Homo sapiens: one gene and its partners. The protein of the gene in region 2 interacts with the protein of the main gene of each other region in a biochemical or structural test. Each region holds a gene or a part of one and is shown on either strand. Other genes may lie near its edges.

Evidence for each region.
Region 1: the proteins of SUFU (region 2) and GLI2 form a complex in vitro, tested with the Homo sapiens proteins (one study listed by BioGRID).
Region 3: of the proteins of SUFU (region 2) and FBXL17, one has a biochemical effect on the other in vitro, tested with the Homo sapiens proteins (2 studies listed by BioGRID, with this or other methods).

The regions. Positions count from the first base shown.
Region 1 is NC_000002.12:120,731,832-120,738,882, forward strand, and holds the start of GLI2 (zinc finger protein GLI2), read left to right. Parts: upstream 1-4,036; 5' UTR 4,037-4,454; intron 4,455-4,729; exon of another isoform or gene 4,730-5,830; intron 5,831-7,051. UniProt on the Homo sapiens protein: Functions as a transcription regulator in the hedgehog (Hh) pathway. Functions as a transcriptional activator. May also function as transcriptional repressor. Requires STK36 for full transcriptional activator activity.
Region 2 is NC_000010.11:102,590,969-102,597,987, reverse strand, and holds part of SUFU (suppressor of fused homolog), read right to left. Parts: intron 5,407-7,019; coding exon 5,264-5,406; intron 4,353-5,263; coding exon 4,267-4,352; intron 3,996-4,266; coding exon 3,923-3,995; intron 852-3,922; coding exon of another isoform or gene 849-851; coding exon 695-848; intron 1-694. UniProt on the Homo sapiens protein: Negative regulator in the hedgehog/smoothened signaling pathway. Down-regulates GLI1-mediated transactivation of target genes. Down-regulates GLI2-mediated transactivation of target genes. Part of a corepressor complex that acts on DNA-bound GLI1.
Region 3 is NC_000005.10:108,379,084-108,386,693, reverse strand, and holds the start of FBXL17 (F-box/LRR-repeat protein 17), read left to right. Parts: upstream 1-4,595; 5' UTR 4,596-5,002; coding exon 5,003-5,995; intron 5,996-7,610. UniProt on the Homo sapiens protein: Substrate-recognition component of the SCF(FBXL17) E3 ubiquitin ligase complex, a key component of a quality control pathway required to ensure functional dimerization of BTB domain-containing proteins (dimerization quality control, DQC).

The DNA.
Region 1 (7,051 bases), on a different chromosome or scaffold from region 2:
TGCCTTGATCTTGGACTTTCCAGACTCCAGAACTGTGAGTAGTAAATTTCTGTCATTTATAAATTACCCAGTCTAGGGTGTTTTGTTATAGCAGCCTGAGTGGATGAAGACACAGGCTTTGTAGCCTAACCATGAAGCAGTACACCTATCTCAGAGCCTATCTAGTCTTCCACGGGTCTCCAGTTAGCCATGTGTAGCAGACTGTGTTTTCCAAAAACAGCCACAGCAACCTTTCTGCTCCCAGGTGCTTTTTCAGAATCATGCCACTCCCCCTCAAGAGATGGAGTCTAGCCTGGTGTGGTGGCTCATGCCTGTAATCCCAGCACTTTGGGAGGCCGAGGCAGGTGGATCACTTGAGGTCAGGAGTTTGAGACTAGCCTGGCCAACATAGTGAAACCCCATCTCTACTAAAAAATACAAAAATTAGCCAGGTGTAGTGGTGCGTGCCTGTAATCCCAGCTACTTGGGAGGCTGAGGCAGGAGAATCCTTTGAACCCTGGTGGCAGAGGTTGCAGTGAGCAGAGATGGCGCCACTGCACTCCAGCCTGGGCAACAGAGCAAGACTCGTCTGAAAAAAAAAAAAAGAAGAGAGATGGAGTCTATTTTCCCTCCCCTTAACCGAGGCAGATCTCTGTGTCTGCCCTGAAGAATAGAGTGCACTGACGTGATACGGTGTGCCTGCCGAGGTTTCATAGAAGACCAAAGGCCTTCTCCCTGGCTGGTTCTTGTTAAGCTCGCCCTGCATATTAGTTACCACCGTGCTATGAGGGACCCCAACTAGCCTGAGTAAAGAGACCACATGAAGAGGTGCATGGAAAGGAACTGAGGCCCCCCACCAGCCAACAGTCAGCACAGACCGCCAGGCAGCGGAGCCAGAGTCTTCAGAGGATCCCAGCCTCAGCCCTGAAGCTTTCCAGTGGAGGCCTGACACTGTGGAGCAGAGACAAACTGCCCCTGTTATACCTCGTTCAAAATCCTGATGTGCAGAAGCCACGAACATAAGAAATGGTTGTTTCCTTCCGTTGAGTTTGCGGGTGATTTGTTCTATGACTAGTCACTAGAATACGGGGAAATAATGAACAAGCTGCTTCCTTTTGGGCCTGGTTTTTCTCGTCATTCAGGCCCATTTCACAGAAAGGGAGAAGGAAGAACTGGAACACTCCACTTCCCCTTCTCCTAGTCCACCCTCCCTCATTCCTCATTCCTTCTTATCAGTGCAACCTCATCTCCCCAGGAAAGCGTTCTCCTTCTCTGTACCACTCCCCTCCCCAAGCTCACCTCCCAGCTTGCTCAGGTCTCCAATCACCGGCTCCCACAGCACGGTGGATTTTCCTTTACCCAGTTTGTGATTATATGTTTGTTTGTGGTTATTAATGAAACATAAGCTCCCTAAGGGGAAAGATCTTGTAGGTGTTGCTCACTGTGGTGTCGAGCCACTTAGCACAGTGCCTGGTACTGATTGAATGAACCAGACTGGCCAAAGGTCATACACTTAGTACCAGATCTGGGACTAGGACCTGGTGTCCCAGCGCTCAGTCGAAGGCTTCCCTGGCCACACCAGTTTGCCTCCACTCCAAACCTTCTGCTGCTTTTTTCAGCGCCCAAACTTCTGACCATCTAGAGATTCAGGCACGGTGTCTACAGAGTTCTCCTCCAACCAAAAAACATTCTGTCTTCATCTCGACAGCCATCTTCTTGCCAAAATAAGCCGGGAAAGGTTATGTGAGTGCCTGGAGTCCAGCAGGAGTTGAGCTGGTCTGAGAAGAAAAACAGAGAAGAAGGAAATATCCTAAAACATTGATTTGTTTAAACTTCTTCACAAACTTTACAACACAAGGAAATCAACAGAGACAAGCTCATAATGAAGTAATCAGCCAACGCGGCTAATATTCCAGCAATGAGAAATGATTCCCTACATGTCATGGGGCAGATATGAATAGGGTCATTAAAATATGGCCAAGGAGGGGAGGGAGAGTTTACTTTTTCTGTCTCCTTAGAGTCTGTGTTCTGAAAGCTCAGCAGGAATTTAAACAAATAGCACGGAGGAATGGTGAATCTGATCATCTTTAAAGAAAAAGCCCCTTTCAAACTTCTCTTTAAATCATTGGCTTATGCAAGTTTCGCTTTTTAAAAATGCTGCCGACCTTTTCCCCCCAAACAAAATTAGCATCAAATTGTTCTAATATTTTTCTGCATATTTTTTTCTCTAGGTCAAGAAGAAATTGTTGCTCCATCATATAAGTGAATGTCAGGAGGAGGAAGGAGGATCTTAAGGAATGAAGTTCTAATGCATCCTCTTTGATTAAAAAGTAAAAGAATAAAGTTAGCAGAGGATAAAAGGTATATGGAGAGAGCCACCCACAAAAAGGGTTGCACCGGTGAAATGGGCCTGTGTAGGTCACATCCCCTCAGGGAGGGTAGCATTGGGTCCCTTGCATTTCAAATAAAATGCAATTTTAGGAACAGGGGCTGAAGGGAGAGACACTTCCACCCACCTCAACAGGGCAATTTTTTAAAAATTTAATTTAATTAATTTATTTTTTTGAGACAGAGTCTCGCTCCATCACCCAGGCTGGAGTGCAGTGGCGCCATCATGGCTCACTGCAACCTCCATCTCCCAAGGGGTTTGAGAGATTCTCCAGCCTCAGTCTCCCAAGTAGCCGGGATTACAGGCGCGCGCTACTATCCCTGGCTAATTTTTTGTATTTTTAGTAGAGACGGGGTTTCACCATGTTGGCCAGGCTGGTCTTGAACTCCTGACCTCAGGTGATCCCCGTGCCTCGGCCTCCCAAAGTGCTAGGATTACAAGCGTGAGCCACCGCGCCCGGCCCAACAGGGCAAATTTAACTGAACTTACAGTACAACCACCCGAAGCTCTGGGAGGATGGCAGAGTGCTCTGACCTTAGACTAGTTACTTAACTTTTTAAAGCATCAGACTTCCCACCTGTAAAAACACGAGAAGAGAACCTTCCTTACAGAGCTGTGAAAGTCCAATAATACAAAGAAAATATAACATCACCTGGCACTTGGTAGAGTGTTCTACAAACGTTAGGAAGAATAAAACCAGAAATTCCCCCCAAGACCCTCTTCGGGTGAGGCCCAGGGGCCCTGGAGAGGGTGGCAGGCCCGGGGGTGTGGGGAGGACACTTTAGCCAGCTGCCCCCAATTCTCCTCCAAGCCTGGCGGCCCAGTTCCGGGCTGTGGTGTGGCTTGAGGGCCCAGGGCTCCTCACTGAGCTTGCTTAAGCAAGTTCTTTCACACACAGCCCCATATACACTTTGGCTAGAAAATTCAATGAGGAGTTTTTTCTTCCTTCTTTCTCTGTTGTTGTTGGGTTCTGATTACTTCCATCTGGCTTCAGCGGCTCGAGTGGAGTCTCTAAAACACACAACACAACAAAACAAAAACCCACCCTGCAAGCCACATGCACCAAACCTAGAAGGCTGCTTCGTTTCTCGCCAGCGTGTGCTCAGATGGCGACGAGGGCTAGCGGCGGCGGGGGACGCCTCAGGACCCCCGGCACCTGCGCTCGCTGCCCGCGGGAAGAGGGTCCGCGTGGACCCAGCCCCCGCGTCCCTTCTCTGGCGTCCCCGGCTTCCGCGCGGGCGTCCAGAGAAGCGGGCGCCCTGGGAACAGCGACCCAGGCATCTCCCCGAGGAGGGAAGTGGGAGGTGGGGAGGGCGGGGGGATTTCAGAGATTGAAAACAGAGCAGCCCTTGCCCCTCAGCTCCGGAGCTCATCTGACTTGAGTTAGCGACACCCCCAACCCCCCCCCCCACACCTAGTCGTCTAAAAAAAGTGTCGGAGATTGGCGCGTCCTTTGGTTCCTTTCTCGAACTTTCCTTGTAGGTGCGTTTTCTTTCCTTGGTGCTGGGTGGGGAGAGTCCCTGTGCTCCCCCTTTCCCCTCCCCCCGCCCCGGCGGCGTTCGGGTCCCCCTGCGTCCCCCGGCAGGGAGCGGGCGGGCTGGCTGGCGGGTTCTTGGGGCCCGGGTGTGCCCGCACCGTGCGCGCGGGGGCGCTGCGCAGTCCGGCGGCGCTGATGGATTGCAGAAGTGCCGGCGCTTGCCAGCCGAGGCAGCACGGCTCCGCGGACTTTTTTTCAAACTCCCATCAATGAGACTTCGAGGAGGAGCGGGCGGCGGCGGCGGCTGCGACTGCGAACGCGGAGGAAGGCCAGGAGCCGCAGGAGGAGCCGGAGGAAAGAGCTTGGGCCGCGCGGCGCGCCGCAGCCTCGGGGAGCCGCCTGCTCGCCGGCGGTAGGGGCTGCGCGGCGCCCGCCCGCCTCTCGGTCCCCTCTCTTGCCTGGCCCGCCCCGCCCCGGCTGGCTGGAGCCCCGGCACAAGGCAGCCAGCCGAGGGTCGCCGCGCCAGCCAAGGTGGGATGGGGGCCCACAGCCACCGCCCGGCGCCCGAGAGGCCACCTGCGTGCTAGAGGCAAACTTTTGTCTCTCTCGGTAAAGTTGCATTGGCCTTCTTTTGCTTGCTTTTCGTGACGAAGCGCCTCCCACCTCGGCCAAGCGCGGGCCGACTGGGATGCTGCGCCGTCTCGGGGGGTCCCTCGGCCGGGTACCGGCGCCTAGGCCTTGGGATCGGGGCCCTGGGCTTCGGGGGACTAGAGGCTAGTAGGCGCGACCCCGCCTGGGGCTCTGGACGAGCAGGGCGGGGACGTAAGGAGAGTCCTGGGGCTTGGAGCTCGTGGCCAGAGGTCGATGTTGCACCCTCTCCCTACCTGGGGGAGAGCACCACTCTTCTCGGGGTGCACAGCGAGCCGGCCTCCGCGCGCCGGCGGGGGTCTGTTTTTTCAGGGGGTGGAGGGTGGGATCGGAGGCTGGGATGCTCCGAAGCTGCCGTAGGTGGGCATGGGAGCGTGTCTGCGGGCGTACTGAGCGCGGAGGGGCTGCAGCCAGCCACTTGAGAACTTCGAACTCCACTTCTCCGCGCTGCGCGTCCCGGAGCCCTGCCTTTCTTTCTTCCTTCCTCAATCCTTCCTCCCCCTCGCCCGGCCCGGCCGCCCCCTCCCCCTCTGCTGGGCTCTCCTCCTCGGCCCCCCCTCTTTGCCTCTCTTCTCCTCCTCTCCTGCCCTCGGCCCTGAGATCCGCTTGACTTCCCAAAGGGATCCGCACGTAATCCTTTGCCGGGTCCTCCGGTTCCCCCTTCCACCTCACTTTCATCCCTGCCCCCCTACTCATCGTCTCTCCCCACCCCCGACAATCTCTCAACAAGTATATTTGCTGAGGAATTTGAAAAATCCACTACTGCAACTTGATCTGTATGTGATGGATGGGGAGAGGCGCGGAGAGAGTTGGGCGCCAATCCTATTAAGGGTTTAGAGAGGGGAGTCTTTTCCCCGGACGGGGCGGGGGCGGGGAGCTGGGAGGGAGCGTGTGCTTGCGTGTGTGAGTGTGAGCGCGCCCGCCGCGCTGGAGAGCTGGGAGTCCACCCAGCTCGGCGCCTTTTCAGCCCGGCGGTAACTGCTGTCATTTCCTAGGAAACCCGACTTTTACCGCGCGGGGAGCTGGGGATGGAGCCCGTGCGCCTCACCCTGGGTGATCGGTCGCTGAGGCTCTCGGGGACCTCGAGCCCCCCCGAGGGTGCCTCTTTCCACTACCTTCTCTTTTGTGTAATTGTTCTGTGGCTCCTAGAGTTGATCCCAGCTGGAAAAGTAGACCTGTCCCTACTGTCTGGTCCCGCGCCCTGGGAGTCTTGTAGGCGTCCCTCTGTCCCCCAGCCCGGGCATCCCGCTCGGTGCGCGACCTCTGGCACGGGCTTTGCAGCTCGGTGGCCGCAGCGGTGTCCCGGGCCCCCTCTCCGCCGCTCTTGCCGGGCGTGTGAAGGTTTAATCCCGACAGCTTCAGATAAAGGGAGCAGTTGTAAAACGCTCATAGGCTGTTTGCAGACGAGGCTCTGGGGGATGTAGGAGAATTTGAAAGTAAACGTTTCCCTCGCAAGCAGCATAAAATAGTGTTTAAACAAATATTGTATTGGCATGCTCAGGGGGCTCGGTGCCAAAAAGTAAAGTAAATAAACTGTGAAATCCAAAATATACAGCGGGGAAAGCGGAGGAATAGGCGGGTTTGTCACAGGCCTCCCTGATGAGACCAGTTTGTTCCAGCCACCTCACCTGCCAGCTTTCTCTCCGCCCATTTCCTTACCTTGCTGGGAGTTCCCTTGGCTGGGTTTCCCTGTGTCTGGGGACAGGCCCTCCCTGGGGCCTGGGAACGGCTTTGCAGTTGCTTGTTTAGGGGGAAGCTCACGGTGTGGCTACCTGGGCCTGACTCCACAGGGACGGGGGGCACCTTGGCTATGCCTGGCTGCTTTGAGTTTGGAGGCTCTTTATTTAGGCTTTTCCCAGCTTCTGGTCTGTCCTGGGGCAGTCATTCTAGAATGTGGAATCCAGATCCATCAGGGGCCTTCTCTTCTTTTTGACTATGCTTCTTGTGCCTCTTTCTTCATCGTTCTTGCTTTTGTTTTCCTAGACTTGCTGCTTCTCTCTTGAGGGTTACAGGAAATTGTGGAGATGTTTTTCCCTGGGATTCGAATTCCACTCAAGCCCAGCCATATGGAAAGTTGTCGCTTGTCTGATGAGTTTTAAAGTTAATTATATTTGGTAAGATTTAGGGTGGTTTTATTTTCTCCTCTGCTTCGAGAAATATGCCAGTTTCACGAAATTGTTTCGTGATTTTAGGGGATTTAAGCTAATACAGGGAAGATCCTGCATTTGAAAGAGCCCAGCTGCCCAGGAGGTATCCCTCAGGTGAACCAGCCTTCAGTTGGGCTAGCATCTGAGTGAGAGACTGTGGTCAGAACGGTCTATTTGCAAAGCCTCTTGGAGAGAATTAGAATTATAGGTAGAAAGAATTAGAATGATAGTAGAAAGAGCCTCCCAAGCCACCGAGGAACAAGGTAAGACTGCTAGAGATGGTTTTATCCTCTGTGGGAATCGATTTGACTGAATTTGCAGTGGGTTCAGATTCCTTCAGCAGAGACTTCCGGGCTGCTCCCAAACTCATTCTGCTCTGGCCTTGAAGGGGACTCTTGACTCGTGGCTTCC
Region 2 (7,019 bases):
TGTCAACACATGTATATGTAAGTGGCTGCTTCTCCTTTGCAGTTAGCTGGGGACGCCCTCTACTAAAAACCACAACTGTTTCTGTAGCCAAGATCAGCACAGGGAGATTCCAACAGGACAGCCACATCCTCCTTCCCAAAGACCCCATCCGGAACACGGTGGGTCCAGAGGCCCTGCCCACAGCCCCTAACCCTGTATCTATATGACAGGAGGTGGGCAATTTGCAAGCCAGCCTCACACTCAGGCCTCATTTGTTGAAGGCCTGGGAGGGCCCGAGGCCAGAGTGATCCTTGGATCTGGCATGGCCTTCAGGCCAGAGCTGGGCCCTGTGTCAATTCCGTGGGTGGCCGACACTTTTCTCTTGCACTTGGGTGGACTATGGACTTTTCCTGTAACTGTTCTGAGGCTTCCACTCACCTCCATGACCTCAGATTGCAAAGGGCATATCTAAAACACAACGGTGCCTGCTGGTGATGCATTTGAAATACACACAGGAAACACAACTAGGAATGGGCCAATAAAGCTCCCTTAATTCCGCCCTGCTGGAAGACTTCACTTGCTGTTTAAATCATGCCAGGAAATAAACTATTGAATGGGTTGTTTTTGTTAGAGACCCATCCTAGAGAGACTGGAAACCAGGCCCTGGGGAAAAGGAAGGAGGAAGGCTGGTGGAATGCTGAGTGATGGCTCCCACCTTTGCCAGAGAGTCGCCGGGGCTGTGTGCCGATGCAGATGCTCCGGCTGTCCTCGTCATCCTCGGGGGGCCGGCTCAGGTCATCCCAGGCACACTTGGCACTGACACCACTCAGGTTGGAGCCATCTGTCTCGATGCCTTTGTCAACTCTCTCCTGCTTGAAAAGAACCAAAGAGCCAGAGTTCTTTCAGAGAACTGGTGACCCAAGGTGACCACCCTTTCAGCCACTGCTCTTACAGTATTTACTGAGCCCTTGTGGTGCTGAGCATGGGACAAATGCTGGAGAGCAGGATCTCTGACCTTGTTCTGCCCTGGTTACCAATGCATGATGGTCTCTGCCAGCTCCTGGACTCCTCCAGGGGAACCAGGGATTAGGGGAAGCCAGGAGGAATGCAAATCCCAAGGGAAACATCTCTTCTACCATCAGCCTTCCAGCACAATGGCCTCTACCTGTTTCAGAGCCCCAAACCTGTCCCCGCCACGCTGGCTGGTGGGGCTGATGTGGCCATGAGAGAGCCTACTTCTCTGAGGAGAGGTGTGATCCTTCCTCTCCTCCCGATCTTCAGGCAGAACCTCCCAGTCACTGCTATAGAAAACAGGGTGGAAGCCTGCCACAGGCAACAGGCCACACCTGCAGTTTCCCCTTCTAACAGCTAGAGGGTGTGGTCACACAGGGAAGAGCCACTGGAGAACAAAGGCTGGACTTCCCTAGATGCATTGGTTCCCTTGTTTAGCAAAGGACTCTGGATGGAGATTCCTTCCCATTTCTTAGACTGAAATGGGGGCCTAGAGTGCAGTGACTATCTGCAGACACCCTTCTCTCCCCATCGAGACCCTGCCTTTGTGCAGGCCTTGGTACTGCTGAGTACAAACACTCTCCAAATGGCTTCAAGGAAGAGTTGTACTCAAAACATCCCTGGATTTTCTGGTAAAACACAGTTCATTGATGCTGGACCTTGAATTAAAAGTCATCTGGAAGGCTCTATGTCCATGTGGGCCAAATCAAGCTTGTGACTGAGCATCTCAACAATAATCTGTGCTTCCCGGCTCCACAGGTACCACACTGGCCTGCTGATCAGCCCAGAAGCCCCATGTGGGAGAAGTACAGGTACTGTCCTTATTTCCTGGGACCAGTCAGCAAGTGGCTCTGCCCCAGACGCCTCCTTCCCATCAGTCATCTCCTCCTTTCAAGTGCTAATGCTGGCCTGGGCAAAGCTGTGGGTTCCGAGCAGGAAGAGGCTAAGCAGGGAAGCGCTCTGTGTACTCTGGGCAGGGAGCATGTATACCCTGGTGTGCTCAGGGGATAGTCTGAGCTTTTTCCTCTGCACTGGCTGCCCTGGGGTCCCTCACTTAGGTAAAGAGTTGCAGACAGACAATTCTTGGCTCAACTTGTCTGGGCTATTTACTTTATAAGTAAAAAGAAAAAGTTAAGACCCAGAAGGCGAGGGACTTATTTGGGCACACAGCTGGTTAGTGTAGAGCTTGAATCACAGGAATATATGCCAGCTCTAAAGAGACTGATAGCAAGCAGGCCCCAGAAAGGCACAGTGAATACAGAGGAGTTCACACTTGGTGCACAGAGCCACCAGGAAAGAAAGCTGTCCTTTGTTCCTGTGGGACCCTGGCTTGCTTTCAAAGACCACTAGGTGCTCCGGGTCCTGTGGGCTGCTCTCAGGGGATCCTGCAGACTAGGAAGAACAGCCCTTGGCATGGAAGGACAGCTGTTTACCCTACTAGTGCAAAGGACCAGGTTCTTTCTTAGTACTTGGCACTTATGACAGGGGCCAAACAACGGCCCACAGTGCCCCATGCTGGATCCCAGTGTGGCTACAGAACAAGGGCTTAGGGAAAGATAGCCTTCCTGGTTCCTGGTTCTTGCATATGCAGAAGATACAAGGAAACCAAGTTTAAAGCAGAGAGAACAGAGGATCCTGGCAGCAGTTTGAAATGTTCAGTGTTAAAGGCACTAGGAAAACAGAGGAGCATCATCTGTGAATGAAGAGGATTTATGCCCAAGAACTCACAAGTCTACAGTGAAGAACTCAGGGGCTGCTGGCTACATGTCCATCTGCCACCTTTCTCTTGCTCTAACACATGGAACTCCCGGCAACTGCCTGTGGCCTACCAGATATTTTACAGAAGCATGGCAGGTTTAGAGATGGCAATGACCTGCATTTGGTCAGGGGAGTAGAAGGAGCCAGACACCAGGCAGGTAACATTATTAGCTGTCTGTGGCTCCTGCTTCAAGAGAAGCCCATAAGAAAGGCAGTTATGGGCCAGGCGCACTAGCTCAAACCTGTAATCCCAGCACTTTGGGAGGCCGAGGCGGGCGGATCATCTGAGGTCAAGAGTTCGAGACCAGCCTGGCCAACATGGTGAAACCCTGTCTCTACTAAAAATACAAAAAATTATCTGGGCGTGGTGGTGGGCGCCTGTAATCTCAGCTACTCGGGAGGCTGAGGCAGGAGAACTGCTTGACCCTGGGAGGCGGAGGCTGCAGTAAGCCGAGATTGTGCCACTGCACTCCAGGCTGGGTGAGAAGAGCGAAACTCCGTCTCAAAAAAAGAAAAGGCAGTTACGTTCTTGTGGCTTTCAAACTTTACCTGCATGACAAAGGAATGCTTCTAAAACAGCAAAGATGACACTGAAACAATGTCCAGGTGGGCCACAGGGAGTGGGCAGCTGCCAGCCTGTGTGTCTAAGGTGCCAATCTTTCCAGGCTAGGAGCTCTGCATCTGACTGTCCAAGATAGAAAATGTGGCGAAAATGGGGATAGGACCATTAGACCAATCAGCCCTCACTCCTGCAGCTGAGCCATGGAGTCAGTATCACCTACACTACTGTCTGGTACAGGGCGGTGGTGGCCGTGGTGGCTCCCTAAAAGAAAGTCTGGGAGGCAGGAGAATGAATACTGGGCAAGCAAGCAATATCCACTACACTTATCTTTTATTGCTGGCAATCTAATTTTTTAAGCCAATATATAATTTACATACAATAAAAATATCCTTTTAAAATGCCAAAATACATATGTCTGAGGACTAGCTTTCCTGGGCTGAAACCTCTGCTCCCTACGTGCTCTGCAGAATTCAGGGGACAAGTTCCAAGTGATGCCATATTTCTACTCACTCACACATAAAGGTCCTCTGTTTTCCCAGGATGAAAGCCAGTGTTATTTGGAAGAGGCCTAGGCACAGGGTGCTAGAAAGGTTTTCCTCACTCAAGACATACTTGCAGGTGTGGATCGATCTCAAATATGGTCTCTCCCCTCCGCATGTCAGTTATCAGCCAGGGGCCGCCAGCACTGTGGACAAGGAAAGGGGATACAATGGTAACTGAGGGTCTGGGGCTGATGGGCTGGGCCTACAGCCTGCCCTGTTTGCTGCCCCAGGCCTAGGACACAGGGGAATAGTTCGTGGTCAGGGACTGTCAGGGAGTGAGTCGTCAGGAAGCCCTGATGTGAAAAACCAGGGTCTGAAATAACAACGCAAGAGGGAGCCCCACATGGAGGGTAGTGGAGGGACTCCCACCCCCAGGCCCAGGGAGCCGCGCTCCCACCTTGCATGGGTACTCACATAGGCACTGTCCGCAGCAGCTCCAGGATGCCCTGCCCGTTCCACTGCTGGGCTGAGTGTAGCTCTTCAGTGCAGACACCAACGATCTGAGGCCCAGGATAGAAAGCCCATTGTGTGTTAATGGCCACCCCCCACCCCAAGAAGGTCAGCTACCCAGGCTCTCTGAGTCACCTCCAGTTGGGAGACCACAGGCAGGATCTGTGCTCAGGAGCTGGTGCAGCCAAGATTGGATGATTCCCTTAGGAGGGAGTGGCTGCCTGGCTGGGAAATGGCTGGGTCCACATGTGGGCCCTGAGGCCTGACCCTTGCCCTTGCTGTGTCTGGATGACACCAAGTCTAGCTCTTAGCTACAAAGGAGAAAACCAAGGCCTGAGCAACTCAAGATGTGTCCTCAGGCCATGTCTCTGGAAGTAGGGGAGGTTCAGGGAGCCATTCCTACCCAGTCTGGTATCATGGGGAATGTAAACAAGAGACTTTGAGACCTATCAGGCTTGGAACCACCACCAATAGGTCATAGCAGCCTGCAGAGAAACTCCTCCCTTCCTTATTAGGGGATAGGCCTTTGTGTAAATATCAAGGGAATCAGTGGAACCTTCACATAGACTTCGTGACCAAAAACAAGCACTGGTCAAAGCTGGGCAGGTTCCCACAGCTTCTGGCAAAGAGCAAGGACGACCCAGAGCTGGCTTCCCGCTGGAAAGTCCTGTTCCTGAGACTGGGTCTTCACTGTTCAAAGAATACCCGCCACCCCATTACTCCCTCTCAGCTACAGCCATTCTCTCCCAACCAAATGCCCCCTTCCCTTTCTCCCCTCTCCCATCTCAGCAGGTTAAATCAGACCATCTGAATCTACCTGACAAACCATCAGAGGAAACAGAAATCAGGACGAGGCCAAAGGAAACCTCCCACTCCCTTCACTCCCCCTCCTCAAGCCTCCTTGTCCTCCCAGGACCCTTCCCACAGGAAGGCTTGAGCCAGCGTCCAACCTGTGCCTCACCTGGAGGAAGGTAACTACCCCAAAGGGTGTCTGCACGGGCTGCATCTGTGGGTCCTCTGTCAGCAGCATGTGCTGAATTCTTGACTCACTGTTATCCAAAGGGCTGTGCCAGGACACATGGTCCCCACTGCAGAAGGTGTTCTCTGTGGGAGAGATACAAGGATCCTCATTGTTCAAGGCCCCAGATCCAGGCCTGGAATCTGGGCTGGGATCTCACTAGCCCAGGCTGGGAGGCTTCCCAGCCTCTTAGGGTAGCCCCTGTGAAGGAAGAGAAGCATTCACTCCGGATGGAAGCAAAGAGTTTGTGGATATTTCCAAAAACCTAAATTGTTCCTGCTTGCCAGTTCTGTCAGACTTGAAAAGGACAGGCTATTAGTGTGAAAGCTCCTTCGGCCTGGGAAACCAGAAAGACTTCTGGCATCTGCTTCGCTTCCCCAATATCCCGACTCATGGTGGGAGGCAGGAGCCATGACTGGATCTGCCAAGAAAGAATAAGGTGCTTTTCTGTAGGGCCACCTGGCCAGAAGTCCACAGAGAGGCAACAGGGCAATGAAAGCCCTTCACCTTGGAGAAACAGACCGAAATTCCTATGTTGCTGAAATGGCACTCAGAAGGAAACATCGAACCTTGGAGAGCCTTTGAAATCTATCACCATTTTCCCACAGGCAGATGTAGGAATTCCTGAGGAACACTAGGCTTCAAGTAAATGGAGGTCTAAATAGTGCCTCCCACACCGTGGCAGAGACAACTCATGAGGATCCTCAGGCCATGTCTCTGAGATGTTCAGATTCTGCCAAGGGTAGCTGTTGCCATGAGGGCATAGCCTCCTCACACACAGGCTCACCACTGCACTTCAAGCAGGTACGTTACTTTAGAGAGAGTTTTGTTTAAGGCCACATAACCACAAGGGAAAACAACCCCACAGGGTACTAAGTCTCTCACCAGCTCTGACTCTCATCGTGGGTGCCAAGGTGCTCTATATGTCCAGCCTATGCATCCACAGGCTCCCTTCCATGTTTTGTCCTTACACAAATGGAAGCACACTATTCTGCAGATTTCACTTAATTATATATCTTAGACAGCACCTTTTTTTTTTTAATATGGAACACTTCACGAATTTGCATGTCATCCTTGCGCAGGGGCCATACTAATCTTCTCTGTATCGTTCCAATTTTAGTATATGTGCTGCTGAAGTGAGCACGAGATCACCTTTTTTTTTTTTTTTTGAGATGGAGTCTCGCTCTGTTGCCAGGCTGCAGTGCAGTGGCGCGATCTCTGCTCACTGCAACCTCCGCCTCCTGGGTTCAAGCGATTCTCCTGCCTCAGCCTCCTGAGTAGCTGGGATTACTGGCATGTGCCACCACACCTGGCTAATTTTTTGTATTTTTAGTAGAGGTGGGATTTCACGGTGTTAGCCAGGATGGCCTCGATCTCCTGACCTCGTGATCCGCCCTCCTCGGCCTCCCAAAGTGCGGGGATTACAAGTATGAGCCACAGCACCCAGCAGAGATCACTGCTTCTCAGCATATGGAGAGCTATCTCATTCTTTAAATGGCTGTTCCAGAGTTCACTATGGTCTGTCATTCACGATCTCGGAATCTCAACAGTTGAGGTATCTTTCTTCACTTTTTATCAATATTTAAGGTAAGGCAGAACACACACATACACACACAGACACACCTTTTCCATCCAAGATACGGCTTCAGTTATTGGTCCTAACCTCAATAGTGTTCATTCAGGCAGGAGAAGGAAGACT
Region 3 (7,610 bases), on a different chromosome or scaffold from region 2:
CCTTGAGTATTTCAGCAAAAACACAATATAATATGGAATTAAATCTACTGAACACCTGGGTGTTCCATGATTTTAAGATGCATCAGACAATGTCTTTCTAGGCCATCTGTCACATTTACCACAATTACTGGGATCAATGGCATGTGAACTTTGTTCTCCTTGTGCGTCACTGGTGCTATAGGATGTTTTAGCTATTTACCACAACCACCATTACCCAACTTCAAGCAGCATGAAAACCTTTTACAAAAGGCTGTCTTTTTATAAGCAAATGTGAATTTCAAATTTAGTATAACCTATGTTAGCAAAGAAGAAAAAACTTTTCTTTTTACCTTTTTGCCACATTTTAAATTTATATACTGGTTTTCAGTGTGAATCTCAGTATGCCATAACTCAAATCTACCTCAGGTTGGAATATTATTCAAATATGTAACTATTTTACGTTATAGAATCCATTATTTCACCATAAGTTATTCATTGAAATAAATCATAAGAACAAGCAATTTGGGGGTTTTCTCCCTATATTCATCATTCCCTTCCCTCTATCCAATTCAGAATTAAATCCTGACAACTCCACATCAGAAATGTTTCTCAATAACAACCTTACTTCATTATTCCCAGAATGCCTACATTCTTTTTTTTGTTTTGCTTTTTGTTTTTTGAGATGGAGTTTTGCACTTGTTGCCCAGGCTGGAGTGCAATGGCACAATCTCAGCTCACTGCAACCCCTGCCTTCCAGGTTCAAGTGATTCTCCTGCCTCAGCCTCCTGAGTAGCTGGGATTACAGACATGCGCCACTGTGCCCAACTAATTTTTGTATTTTTAGTAGTGTGAGATTTCACCATGTTGGTCAGGCTGGTCTTGAACTCCTGACCTCAGGTGATCTGCCCGCTTTGACTTCCCAAAGTGCTGGGATCAAAGGCGTGAGCCATCACACCCGGCCCTAAATTCATACTTTTAAGGCTTCTCTATGGACCCTTTGAACAACTTTAACTGGTCTTCCTTCTAAGAGGTTGCTTCTCCTCTAGTCCGTATTCCACACAGTAGCCTGATTATCTTCCCAAAAACTGAACAAAATCCCTGTCCTCATGGAGCCTGTGTTCTAATTGAACAAACCAACAATTTTTAAAAATGTGATAATGAGCTATAAAGAAAATAAAAACGGTAAGAGGAAAGGGCAAAGGAGGGATTAACTTTAGATAGGTTGGTGACATTTGATAATAACAAATGCTAATGCCCTCTAGCTAAAGAGCAGCAGGAAAACAACTAGATTCAAACCAAGGTGGGTTTAATGTCTTGTTGCAGGGAGGCAGAGAGCAATGAGGAGCGAAGTTGGGCAGGAGCACTCTCAGTAAGAAGGTATTGGTATTGTGAAAAACATTACAGGAATGAGTGTGTTGTTAGGTGATTTTGGGGAAGTGTCAAGGTTTTGCTCTGGATTGGATGCTGGCAGGAAACAGGTGATCCTATAACTTAATATTTTAATATTTGCTATCTAGAAGGCAGGAAGAATGGATCAAGGCTAAGCCTGTAATTGGCCAAGAAACAGTGGTCACTTATATTAACCAGAATGTTTGGTCATTTTTGTGGTTTAGAGACTGTTCTTGTATTTGCTGTGTTCAGACATGATTGTGGAGGGGTCTTATTTTTGTCTTGCCTATTGTAGTCATAAAATGACTATAACTGATGTTGATGTTTTGTGGGACTGTTTATATTTGACAAAACAATGAGAACTGAGAATGCCAGGACAGCTGCCAGTACCACAAATGCCTAGCTAATAGTGCCAGTCCAGCTCCTGGCTGTCCGGAGTTGGTTTCCACTGCAACTCCACCCTCTCTGCCCCCCAACTAGCAAAGCCATCAGCTGCTACAACTGTCTCTATAATTCTAATTTATGACTCTTATTCATAATTCTGTATCTTTAACATTTACAACATTAGTATTATTATTTAGGGTACTGAGTTCCAAAACTCATTACAGCTCTCCTGATAATAGTAGTAGCTTATTTAATCACTGATGAACTATACAAGACTCTCTCTGCTATTTGCTGTGGTAAAGAAATAAAAAGAAGGGTTAGAGATAATCCTAAGCCTCAAAGAATCTGAAATTTTTTCTGGGGAGAACTAGTGGTGTGATGATGGTGGGTGATGAGAACAGACATGCAAAATATCTAAATTATAAAAAAACAAGTATCTTTTGTCAGCACAGAGTCCAATAGGTAGACCAAAGACAATTTGCTTGTGGTTGAATGGTTTAGGAACTGGGAGTAAGGAAACAAATATTGTAAATTTTAGCAACGACTTCAGAACTCTCAGAGTCAGTTGCTTCATCTCTAAAAACAAGAAGTTGAAGTTGGATGGTATGTGTAGTTCTGATACATTTGCATGGTGCCAGGCTGTCTGTACAGGAATCACATAGGGAGCCTGTTACCAGGTAGCGATTCGAGGGCCCCGTATCCAGAAAGCATAAAACATCCTAACTTTTTGAGATTCATCCATGCTTTTTCTCTTGTGTTGCTGAGTAGTATTTAATTAGATGAATATATCAGTTTATTAATCCGTTCTCCCACTGATGGACATCTGGGCAGTTTATAGTTTTTGGTGACCATGAATAAAGTTGTTACGGACATTTTTGTACATGTCTTTTTATCGATATATGCTTTTATTTCTCTGGATAAATACCTAGATGTGGGATTGCTGGCTCATAGGGAAGATGTGTATTTAACTTATATGAAATGTATAGGTCGCAATTTTTTTTAAGAGACTGTGTTTCGCTACGCTGCTCAAGATGGACTACGGTGGCTATTCACATGCATAATCATAACAAGCTGGGCTTAAGCGATCCTCACGCCTCACCAGCCCTGTTGTAGTTTGAATGATAGGTACCACCACATCTGGCTCTGACAGGTTCATATTTTTGACATAAAGTTACAAAACACTTTATAATACTCTTGCCTTTTGTGAAAGTGCAGCCTAGTAGAGATGTCAAAGGATCTGTAATAAGTCCTCAAGCACTGCTCTGGGGCCCTGGAAGATTCTCCTACAGGCAAATGGATGAAAGTTATGTGGATTATATGTGTACGTAAATGTCGTTCAGGCAATGCATTTGATAGTGAATAGCGTGTATGTCTGTGAAATCTTTTGACAAATATTTGCTTCTAGAATTCCACATAACTGTCATTAGGCTCTGAAAGGATCCCTGAATGTGACAGACTTAAGATTGGTCATTTCTGACAAAAAGGCCAGAATTAACAATTGTTTGACAGCATGTTTGAGAGCAGGCTGGGTGGGGCTGGCCACTATAGTGGGAATAGCAATGTAGGTTCCAACAGTGGTCTTCTCCAAGCCACTGGGCCTTGAATATTGCAATACTTCTTCCTCAGTCAGCTCTCTCAAGTTATCCTTAGCAGATTTTTTTTTAAACACCTGCCACTTCTCTTCCACCCTTCAGCAGGTAACCAAGCTCTATCTGAAGCAAAACAGAAACCAACAGAAAGGAACTCTTTCACCTTCCTGCTAGAAACATCCACCTCTCTGTATCCGTCCTTTATCTACCTTTCCTCATTCTCTGTAATCACAATGAAGAAAGTATCCTTCCTAAAGCACTCTCCATTCCACCTTCTCCTCTTATTTCTCTCACTAGAGTGGCTCATTCCCATGGTATTTGCCTCCTCTAATTTTTCGCTTGTGAAAGCTAACCTCTCCGCACCAGGTACCGCTCTAGCAGCTGCCCTAGCTCTTTAGCCTCGATATAGTCAAACCTTCTAAAGGACTGCCTGCATAGCTGTTTCCTCTTTCTCATCTGGATCACCAACGTTTGTCATATAGCAGGCACTGCACCGTCATGTTTAAAATATACAACAGACGGCTAGACAGGATTCCGAGGGTGTAGACAATAAAGTGATCTACAGTTTGTAGCCTGGGTGTTGAATGGCTCACTGGGTGGGGAAGCTGTTATCTTTCTGCTGTGCACAGGTAATTTGATATATGCTTTCATTCTGAAATAAAGTTGTGGAAAGGCAGTAGTACGCAACAATTAAGAAAACACAAGTGGGTAAACAGTGGTGCCGCACAACCAATCAACCCCTCACATGACTTCGGTGCGCATCACCCAGGGGCCGCATCTGCCACTCTGCCCGAAGCGCGGTCAGCGCCCACACTGGCCCTTCCGGCGGAACCCGCCTCGCGGCTTCGAAGTGGCCTCGGTTTCCGAGTCAGGGGTGGTGACAGGGGTGGAAGGTGAGGGGAAGAGCCCAGCGGCTCCCGGCCAATGGCAGCTCTTGAACTTACACCTCGAGACGTCAGCGCGGCTGTGTAAACGGATGTCACACAGCTGGCTCGGAAGTGTCTCCTCCCGCCTCAGAAACGCGGCGCACGCCCAGCAGCTTCGGAAAAACCTTAGGCGGTGGGAGGGAGGGGCGTGCGCCGCACCCCGCAAGCCCAGAGCTCCGTGCCCTAGCCGGCCGGCTTCTTCCCGTAGTGCCGGTGTGACGGCCGTCCCGGGTGAGCAGCCGGGTGCCGGCGTCCCCGCCACGAGCGCGCCACCGCAACTGGCTCCGCCCCCTGCCGGAACGGGCCGCGCGCTCCTGCGGCTCCGAGCAGAGTCGCGGGTGCGCGCGCCGGCGGCGGATCCGCAGTTAAAATGGTCCGAGCGGGACCCGGCCTTTCCCCGGCCGCTCCGCTGACTGACTGAGCCGGCTGGCCGGGCCCGGACTGGTCGCCTAGCCGGCAGGCTCGCTCGCTCCCTCCCTCGCGTCCCCAAAGCTCGCGCCCATCGTTCTCCCGGCTTCCCTGGGCAAAGCATGTAGCCCCCGTCGGGCACTCCGGCGGCCCGCAGCTGACGCCCACCCCCCACCGTCGCGTGTGTGCCCGTGTGTGCGTGTGTGTGCGCAGGAAGGGCGACCCCTCCGGGGGCCGAGCCAGCGAGCGGCCTGCCCCGCTGCCGGGAGCCCGCCTCTCTGGGTCTCCCTCCCTCCCGTCCCGGTCCCCCTCCTCGGGGCCTTCTATATGGGCCACCTTCTCTCGAAGGAGCCGCGTAACCGCCCGAGCCAGAAGAGGCCTCGCTGTTGCAGTTGGTGCCGCCGCCGGCGCCCTCTCCTCAGGCTGCCCCGCCGGACCCCAGCCAAGGTGCCCCCTCAGCCGGCGGCGCCCCGGAGCCGGGACTGCTTCTTCCGCGGGCCCTGCATGCTCTGCTTCATCGTGCACAGTCCCGGCGCGCCCGCCCCCGCCGGCCCAGAGGAGGAGCCGCCGCTCTCGCCGCCGCCGCGGGACGGGGCCTACGCTGCCGCCTCCTCCTCTCAGCACCTGGCGCGGCGCTACGCGGCCCTGGCCGCCGAGGACTGCGCCGCTGCTGCCCGCCGCTTCCTGCTATCCTCGGCCGCCGCCGCCGCCGCCGCTGCCGCCTCGGCTTCGTCGCCCGCCTCCTGCTGCAAAGAGTTGGGGCTGGCTGCGGCCGCCGCCTGGGAGCAGCAGGGCCGAAGTCTCTTCCTGGCCAGCTTGGGGCCGGTGCGCTTCCTGGGGCCGCCCGCCGCCGTGCAGCTCTTCCGGGGGCCGACACCGTCACCGGCCGAGCTCCCTACGCCCCCCGAAATGGTGTGCAAGCGGAAGGGGGCCGGGGTCCCCGCCTGCACCCCCTGCAAGCAGCCCCGCTGCGGCGGCGGGGGCTGCGGCGGCGGCGGCGGCGGCGGTGGCGGGGGAGGGCCTGCGGGGGGAGGCGCTTCGCCGCCCCGGCCCCCCGACGCCGGCTGCTGCCAGGCCCCGGAGCAGCCCCCGCAGCCGCTCTGCCCTCCGCCCTCTTCTCCCACCTCCGAAGGTGCCCCCACCGAAGCTGGCGGGGACGCTGTCCGAGCCGGGGGCACCGCCCCCTTGTCCGCCCAGCAGCAGCATGAATGTGGCGACGCGGACTGTCGGGAGTCCCCCGAAAACCCCTGCGACTGTCACAGGGAGCCGCCCCCCGAAACCCCAGACATCAACCAGCTGCCGCCGTCCATCCTGCTCAAGGTGGGTCTGGGCGAGAGGCGCAGGGATGCTCGCTTTCCCCCACCCCCGGCCCCCGCCTCCGAGGCTTTCTCTCTCCTCCCCCTAAGCGCGGAGGAGGGGGGTTCCCTGGCAGCCTAGGGACGTCCCAAGGGGAGACTGGGAAGCCAGTGGGGCCTCTGCCTATGGCCTATTTTTTGAAGTAGGAGCACTTGGAGTCTACTGAATGTCTTTTAATAGCTTGACTCTATAACCCACCATTCAGGGTTCAGCTATTATTAGAATCCCAACCCAGTGGTTTAGAAACTTCGCAGGTATTCTGTGGAAAAAAAAATTTTTTAATCGAGGAATTTATACTTAGTGGGTAAAGGCTTTGCATGTTGGTGTTTGAAAGTCTTTAAACATTACTTTCATGTTTGATGGCTGGTAGTTAATGTCAAACGGTTAACTTACTGAGCATTTACCATAATCAGGCACTGCGCCAGACTTTATATATATAATATCCCATTTATCTAGTTAACGCTTCGAGATAAATACTGTTAATATCTTTATTTTATACAGGAAGAAACTGATTTCTCCGTGCTGTGGGCCACGGTTTATAGTAGTGAGTCAGGCAGAAGTGGTCTTTGCTCCTGTGGAGCTGACAGTCTAGTGGGGCTTGAAGTGGTTGAATGACTTGTGCAAGGTCACATACAGAAAGTAAAGGGTAGATCTAGGTCTTGAATGAGGGAATTTAAGACCACCTGACTTAAAAACCTCTTTGTTTATGCTATGTTGTAATGCCCTTCTACATTTTAACCCTTGCATAAAAGCATACAGATTACCAGAGGTAAGCACAGATGTATTTTTTGTTGGGAGATGGGTGTCCTGCATGAAGTTTGTGTCATTTTCAACTACCAAGAATATTTTGCAGTTTTGTCAATGCTAGTGACAAACTTTAGTTACATAATAGAGTTTTTATTAAGTTATTATTAACTTTTTCCCTCCTTTTCTCTCTTCTCCCACCCTACCCTATTTGGAGCTTAATAAATATAAACCATTTTCATTGTGGATGATACTAGAGACTAGCCATAAATAACCTTGATAAGAATTTGGCTACTTTTACCGTTACTGAAGTAACTGTCATTAATTACAATTGTTATTGTCACCAATATAGTTTCTTTGACTAGACTTTTTGCATATTTACAGTACTGTGTGTTTGGGTCTGTTTTACAGTGATATTATTGTTCTTGTGAGTGATACAGCAAGAGGGTGGGAAAACTTACATTTCCTTGTGTCAAAATGTAATGATCTAATTCTTATGGAGGTCTACTTGTTGGAAGAGTAATTGCCTACTCTTTGTGTGCAGAGGTGCATTTTAGGACAAAGGGAACTTTCTTGAGTCCTTTAAATCACTGGGTGATATGGATAAATAAAATATCAACAAATATTTGGTATAGAAACTTGATTGCTGTCTTCTTATTTGGCAAATAAGACTGTTTCAAAATGAACCAAAACAAAGCCAGGTACCTTCTACTTACAAATTATTTCATGAGGTAAAAAACATTTTAATGCCGAGAAAAAAAAGGGACATGATCTCATAATAAAGAGAAACTCTAATAGAATAAAATAAACTTATCCTATACCGCGTTGTTCTCTT